2 linked regions of the Homo sapiens genome follow. The protein of the gene in region 1 interacts with the protein of each later gene in a biochemical or structural test. Each region holds a gene or a part of one and is shown on either strand. Other genes may lie near its edges. The genes, in order: SLF2 and SMC5.

Region 1 (3,928 bases):
CTTTCTCCATTTAATCTGAGTTATGAAGGTTTTAATATTTGCTTATATGATGCCATATTATGCTTTTATTTTCAGGAAGCAGTCAATTATAGATTTCTTCAAACCAGCTTCAAAACAAGGTATGTACACTGTTGATGCATTTTTTGTGGGCTATTTTGGGGGTGAGGAGAGAGACAGATTCAACTTTAAAACCTACTCTAAACTGTTTTAGTAAACGTAGTGTTCAAAATTGAAAATAAAATGAAGATGCAGTATTTTGTTTTACAAGGATAAACTGAAGTTCTAAATATGAAAGTCTTTTTGCTGTTATGTTTTCTTACATTTAAAATATTATTCTAGTAAAAAATTTAATGTTCATAATACATACTATTTTGATTCTCTAATACAGTAATTTATAGAGCCATAGGGAGGTTATATGATGTACCAAAAGAGAGCTTTATGAAACTAAGGCTTTTAACAAATAAATCATCTCTTAATTTCTCCTATACCCCCCAATAAAGTGTGTATCATTATCCAAGTTGTTGGTTTGAAAATTTTTGTGGTAACATTAGTATAGTTTAATTTATATTTTAAACATTAATAATTTAGATAAATATTAAATATTTTACTAACATGCAATTTGTATGTGTTTTAATTGGCTATTTAGACAGACACATGTTGGATTCACCACAAAAATCAAACATCAAATATGGAGGAAGTAGATTGTCTATCACTGGGACAGAGCAGTTTGAAAGGAAACTATCCTCACCAAAAGAATCTAAACCCAAAAGGGTGCCACCAGAAAAGAGCCCTATTATAGAAGCTTTCATGAAAGGTGTTAAAGAGCACCATGAAGATCATGGTATACATGAGTCACGTCGGCCTTGTCTGTCACTAGCCTCCAAATATTTAGCCAAAGGAACAAATATCTATGTTCCTTCTTCATATCACTTGCCAAAGGAGATGAAGTCACTAAAGAAAAAACATCGATCCCCAGAGAGAAGGAAGTCACTATTCATTCATGAAAATAATGAGAAGAATGATAGAGATCGAGGCAAAACCAATGCAGACTCCAAAAAGCAGACCACAGTGGCAGAAGCTGACATCTTCAATAACAGCTCCAGAAGCCTTAGCAGCAGGAGCAGCCTGTCCAGGCACCACCCGGAAGAAAGCCCACTGGGAGCTAAATTCCAGTTGTCACTAGCTTCTTACTGCAGAGAACGAGAACTAAAGAGGTTGAGAAAGGAGCAAATGGAGCAGAGAATCAACTCCGAGAATTCTTTCTCAGAAGCAAGCAGTCTTTCCTTAAAATCTAGTATAGAAAGAAAATATAAACCAAGGCAGGAACAAAGGAAACAGAATGACATCATACCTGGAAAAAATAATCTGTCAAATGTGGTATGTGTAAGAATTATTGAATTAGCATTGCTACTGCTATGTCATATTTAGAATACTAAATTTAAAAATATTTAAGAGTTGTTACATCACATTGACGTCTTTCCTGAAGGAAATACTTATGCACAGTTTGTGTAGAAGCTGGTTTCATTACATTTCCTCCAGTTGCCCTTCATCGAACTCAGTAAAGCAGTGTTTCTTATCCTTAGTTTTTTCAGACTGGGAACAAAGATCTTTTTTAGTCAGAAAAGTAAGCATTCTTTTTTTTTAAGGCAAGTATAGTCTTACTTATTTATGTGTAGACAGTCTTGCTCTGTTGCTCATGCTGGAGTGCTATGGCGTGATCATGTCTCATTGCAGTCTCAAACTCCTGGGCTCAAATGATGCTCTCACCTCAGCTTCCCAAGTAGTCGAGACTCCAGGTACCTGCCACCATATTTGACTAATTTTTGTATTTTTTTGTAGAGACAGGTCTCCCTATACTGCCCAGGCTGGCCTTGAACCCCTGGCCTCAAGCGATCCTCCTGCTTCCTGTACTTTGGGAGGCCTAGGTGGAAGGATTGCTTGAGCTCAGGAGTTTGAGACCAGCCAGAGCCACATATCGAGACCTTGGCTCTACTACAAATAAATAAATAAATAAATAACCAGTCATGGTGGCATGTGCCTGTTCTCCTAGCTACTTAGGAGGCTAAGGTGGGAGGCTCGCTTGAGCCCAGGAGATCAAGGTTGCAGTGAGTTTGATCACACCATTGCACTCCAGCCTGGGTGACAGAGCGAGACCTTGTCTCAAAAATACAGTGTTCTAATATAATATTCTTGAATTATTGATATAAACGTAAATCAGCATTTTGAAAACTGACTTCATTTTTATGATATTTTTACATGTTTATGATACAAATGCCCTTAATTTTTATGACAAAAACCTTAAGATCTTTAAATATTTTATTATAGACATTAGGATTTACCTCCAAATATGGGTGCTTGCCTTATTCAATCTAGAAATCTGTGTTTAAATGTTAGGAAGAATGCCTTCACATTCTTTACTGTCCCCAACACTTAATTAATTTTATCTCATTGTGCTCATAGGAAAATGGACATCTCTCAAGAAAAAGATCCTCTTCTGATTCATGGGAACCTACTTCAGGTAGAATCAAAATTAAATTTATGGATTTCTAAATAAATTTCCATTTTAATGGCACTGCTTTTTAAAATAAATTTGTTTAAATATGCAGTTCCCTTCTTGGGGATGAATTAAGTGTCTCATATTAATTAAGAGTTTGGTAAGATCATATTAAAAAAGACTAGTCCCTGAATCTAGTACTTATAATTTGGGTTTGTTTTTGAGACAGGGTCTTACTCTGTCACCCAGGCTGGGATGCAGTGGCATGATCACGACTCAACTGCAAGCCTTGACCTCCTGGCCTCGAATGATTCTCCCACCTCAGCTTCCTGAGTAGCTGGGACTACAGATGTGGGCAACTATGCCTGGTTAATTTCTTGTATTTTTGTAGAGACGAGGTTTCGCCACGTTGCCCAGGCTGGTCTCAAACTCCTGAGCTCATGAGCCACCACACCTGACCTAGTGCATATAATTTGTAATCTGTCTTGAATCTCTGCCCTCTTCAGGAGTTCCTAACAGTATGTTTCTCATACTGGTATTCAGTGTTTCCTTCTGAATCCTTGGCTACATCAGGAAACATAATCTTTTTTTTTTTTTTTTTTTTTTTTTTTTTGAGACAGAGTCTCGCTCTGTCGCCCAGGCTGGAGTGCAGTGGTGTAATTTGGCTCATTGCAAGCTCCGCCTCCCGGGTTCACACCATTCTCCTGCCTCAGCCTCCCAAATATCTGGGACTACAGGCGCCCACCACCATGCCCGACTAATTTTTTGTATTTTTAGTGGAGACGGGGTTTCACCACGTTAGCCAGGATGGTCTCGATCTCCTGACCTCGTGATCTGCCCACCTCGGCCTCCCAAAGTGCTGGGATTACAGGCATGAGCCACTGCACCGGGCCCCCAGGAAACATAATCTTATTATCTTGGAATTGTAGACTGAGTTGTTGGTATTATGTTGAAGATGCTTTGTATAGGGTTGAGACTGTTACCATGATAAAAAGCAGTGTTCTCTAATATTTCAAATCCAAGGATCCCTTTTTAATATTAAATTTCAAGGATATCTACATGACATTAGTTTGTACTTTTAGCATTTATTGATTGAAAAAAATATAAAATAACAAATCTGTTAATTCAGTACATTTTATCTTTTTTTAAAACTAGAAAATAGAAGATTAAAAAGGCAAACACTGCAGAAGTTTGCAACAAGAAATGAAAGGTCTCCACAACTAACAACAGTTAATAGTCTAGTGTATCCGATTTTTTTCCTGATGTGACTATACATTTTGAAAAACAAATTCCCACATTCAGTAAGATACATTGGACACGATAATAATAGCTGGCTTTCATTGAGTACTTACTGTGTGCTATGCCATTTTATGTGCTTCTAATTCGTTTGAACCTCATAACTTTATATGATAGTGGTTTACTTTTAGAGATGGA
Region 2 (3,928 bases), on another chromosome or scaffold:
ACCTTATATATTCTGGTTTCTACAAAAGATCTAAATTCAAAATAAAAGTTACAATCGTTCTGAGAATGGGTGACTGGGTTTTCACAATAAATCAGCAGTTTTCTGTTTAGAAAAGACTTTTGGCTGGGTGTGGTGGCTCATGCCTGTAATCCTAGCACTTTGGGAGGCTGAGGCGGGAGGACTGATTGAGGTCTGGTGTTCGAGACCAGCCCCAGCAACATAGCAAGACCCCATCTCTACAAAAAAGCTGGGCATAGTGGTGCACACCTGTGGTCCCAGCCACTCAGGAGGCTGAGGCGTGAGGATTGCTTGAGCCCAAGAGTTCAAAGCTGTAGTGAGCTGTGAGCATGCCACTGCACTCCAGCCTGGGTAACAGAGCAAGACCCCGTCTCAAAAAAAAAAAAAAAAGACATTTGACAATATTATATTTACATTTTGTACAGAATTCTGTGGAATATATGACCCATTAAGGCCAAGCAGACATAATTCTAATTGTCACAAGGAAGACTGCAACTAAATGAGTGAGATAAACCCTCAGGTGCCCAATCTATTCTGTGAAACTCAATATAACCTCCTCCTTCCCTATTACTCTCTTTCAGAACTAGAGAAAAAACAGCCTAGTTTGACAATTTTTCTGCCTTCCCCTCTCCTCTCCTACCATTCAGAACTCAAGGGACATATTGTTTTGGATAATCATGTAGGGCAGTGGTTCTCAAAGTCCGGTCTACAGACTCCTGGGGATACCTGAAACTATTTCAGGAGTCTGTGAGTTAAAAACTATTTTCATGGTGGTAACAGGACATCATTTGCCTTTCTCACCATGCTGTCATTTGCACTGACGGTGTAAAAGCAATGGAAAGTAAAAATGCTAGTGCTTTAGAATAAATCAAGGTAGTGTACCAAAACTAGTGCACCAAAGTATACTAGTTCTTAGATTCTTCACTGCCATGCAATTGAAATTTTTAAAAATGCCAAATTCCCTTAAGAATATCCTTGATGAAGCAGTAAAATTCATAAATTTTATTAAACCTCAAAATCTTAAGTATATATATTTTTAATATTCAATGTCATGACATAGGAAGTACATAATATAGTTGTCCCCCAGTATCCATCAGACATTGGTTGCAGGACTCCCTAAGGATTCCAAAATCCACAGATGCTTAAGTCCCTTATATAAAATGATGTAGTATTTGCATATGGCCTATGAACATCCTCCCATATATTTTATATTATCTCTAGATTAGTTATAATACCTAATACAACATAAATGCTATGTAAATAGTTGTTATATTGTATTGCTTAAGGAATAATGACAAGAAAAAAGTCTGTATGTGTTCCATACAGACATAACCATCCATTTTTGTCCCCCTGAATATTTTTCTTTCTTCCCTCCTCCCTGCCCTGCCTAAAGAGATGAGGTCTTGCCATGTTGCCCAGGCTGGTCTCAAACTCCTGGACTCAAGTGATCCTTCCGCCTTGGCCTCACAAAGTGTTGGGGTTACAAGTATGAGACACTGCACCTGGCCTCTTGAATATTTTTGATCTGTGGTTGGTTGAATCCATGGATGTGCAACCCACGAATATGGAGGGCAGGCTGTGCTTATTAAATATTTGTAGTATATTCAAAAGTATAAATGTTGTTTCAAGGAAAAGCACTTGTGTGACTAAGTTTGGAGTTATACTAGACATTTTTTTCATGGAATACCATTTTTATTTAAAAAAATGACAAACTATAATTATCTGGACTTGGCTATTTGGTCATTTTTCTTTTTCCAAACAGGAATAAAGTGAGCTTGTCATTTCAAGGAAAATAACTGACAATATTTGTTGCCAATGATAAAGTTCAAACTTTCAAATGAAAATTTGAATTTTAGAAAATCTGTATCCACTGGCAAGCTTGACAGCTTCCCAATTCTTAACAGCTTTTCTGATGGAATCAGTGATCAATGTGATCTTTTAAAAATATTACATAATAAAATATGTCAACGTTTGAAATATCTATGTGACTTGATGAACCAGTATTCTCCCAATGACCAATGCATGCTATAACTAAATCATTTACAAGTAAAAGCGCCATCTAAAGTGCAATGGATTTTAATGTAACAGAGTACACAAGTTCACTGATATGGTTTCAGATTCCACACTGCAATTAAACTTTAATAAACTACACTTTGGCAAATTTTGATGTAGTATTAAAGAATAATATCCACAATTACCTGAAAAGTCTAAAATACTCCTCCTTTTCCAACTGCATATTTATGGGAAGCCAGATTTCCTTCATATACTTCAACTCAAACATCTCACTACAAACTCAATATACAGAATTAAGTAGGGAAAAACCTACTGACTTCAACTAAAGAAATCTGCAAAAATGTAAAACGCCACTCTTCTCACTAAATGTATTTTGTCTGGAAAACAGCTATTTTTAATACATTTTTATGTTAACACATAATGGGTTTATTTTTAAAATGAATTACTGCCCCATCTCCACCTAAAAAAAAATAAATTAATGAATATTTTAAACATTCTCAGTTTTAATTTCTAATATGGTAAATATCAATAAATACAATCCATGTAAACAAAACCTCTTCAAGGTCCTCATTAATTTTTAAGCATATAAAGGAGTCCAGAGACTGGAAGAACAGAAGAACTTGCAACACTCAAGATTCATCTCCTTTTGCCCTATGGAATAAAATTGTGTTTTATGCAGTAAGATTAAAGATTAAAGAGAAATTACTACAAAGCGTGCTTGTGGAAATGCTGTTGTTATTACAGTGTATAATTAATATTCTCCCATACAGTAATTTGTGCTCTCCCCCCTGAATAGGCTAAAAGATACCTTCCTAGTTTGGAACTGATTTTTTGTTCCAGTTGTCTTTTCTTGGTTTTTCTCTCAAGAAGCTCCTTCTTCTTTTGTCTAAGTTCATTGTCTTTGTGCTCCAGATGTTTGCTTGTTTCACGTAAGGCAATCAACCCTGAATCCACTGCTTGCAATTTTCTATGAATTTCCTATAAAATATTTAAAAATTGTTAACATATTTAAAAAACTGTTCCAGTGAAACTATTAGAAATCCAGTTAATATTCTTTTCTAACATTCAGATCAAATTAACCAACCTTTAGCTGTTCTTCTAAGTGTCTTCTCTGCTCTAGGTCCACAGTGACAGTGAGAAACTGCGCTACTTTTAGAGATGTGTTACTAGAAATAACTTTGTTTGAATAAAAAGAAGTTTTCACCACATACTTTTCTTCTGCTGTATAAATCTGTTTTAATCGGGTTTCTTGTATTACCTATAACGTAAAACAACTATTAGTGCACATCTAATATAAATTATATGTTTTAAAGTACTAAATTAGAAATACAGACCAAGTGAATTTTGGAAGATCAAAATATACGAGATATACATTTTTTTTTTTTAGACAGGGTCTCACTCTGTCACCCAGGCTGGAATGCAGTGGCACGAACTCAGCTTACTCCAGCCTCAACCCCCCAGGCTCAAGTGATCCTTCCACTTCAGCCTCCTGAGTAGATGGGACTACAGGCATGTGCCACCACGCCTGGTTAATTAAAAAAAATTTTTGTAGAGATGGAGTTTTTCCATGCTTCCTATGGGGGCGCTGGTCTTGAATTCCTGCCTCTGAGATTCTCCCGCCTGGGTCTTCCAAAGTGCTGGGATTACAGATGTGAGCCACTGCATCTAGCAATTTTTTTTTTAACCTATCCAACAAAATTTCAAAAAAGGCGGCCCATACAACTAGCAAAGTCAGCTATACTTCTACGCTACTATACAACTCTCCCAAGTAGTTTTGGAGCTTTGTTACATCTAAAGAAGAGATAGCAGGAGAGAAGAGTGCTCAGCACATTGAACTGTTATCTTGGGTAAGTCATTTACTCTCCCCTCCTCTCAGTTATACTGTTCAAAGATACAT

The links.
Region 2: the proteins of SLF2 (region 1) and SMC5 form a complex in vitro, tested with the Homo sapiens proteins (one study listed by BioGRID).

Annotation. Positions count from the first base shown.
Region 1 is NC_000010.11:100,915,924-100,919,851, forward strand, and holds part of SLF2 (SMC5-SMC6 complex localization factor protein 2), read left to right. Parts: intron 1-75; coding exon 76-119; intron 120-646; coding exon 647-1,377; intron 1,378-2,460; coding exon 2,461-2,518; intron 2,519-3,928. UniProt on the Homo sapiens protein: Plays a role in the DNA damage response (DDR) pathway by regulating postreplication repair of UV-damaged DNA and genomic stability maintenance.
Region 2 is NC_000009.12:70,317,875-70,321,802, reverse strand, and holds part of SMC5 (structural maintenance of chromosomes protein 5), read right to left. Parts: intron 3,290-3,928; coding exon 3,116-3,289; intron 3,010-3,115; coding exon 2,840-3,009; intron 1-2,839. UniProt on the Homo sapiens protein: Core component of the SMC5-SMC6 complex, a complex involved in repair of DNA double-strand breaks by homologous recombination.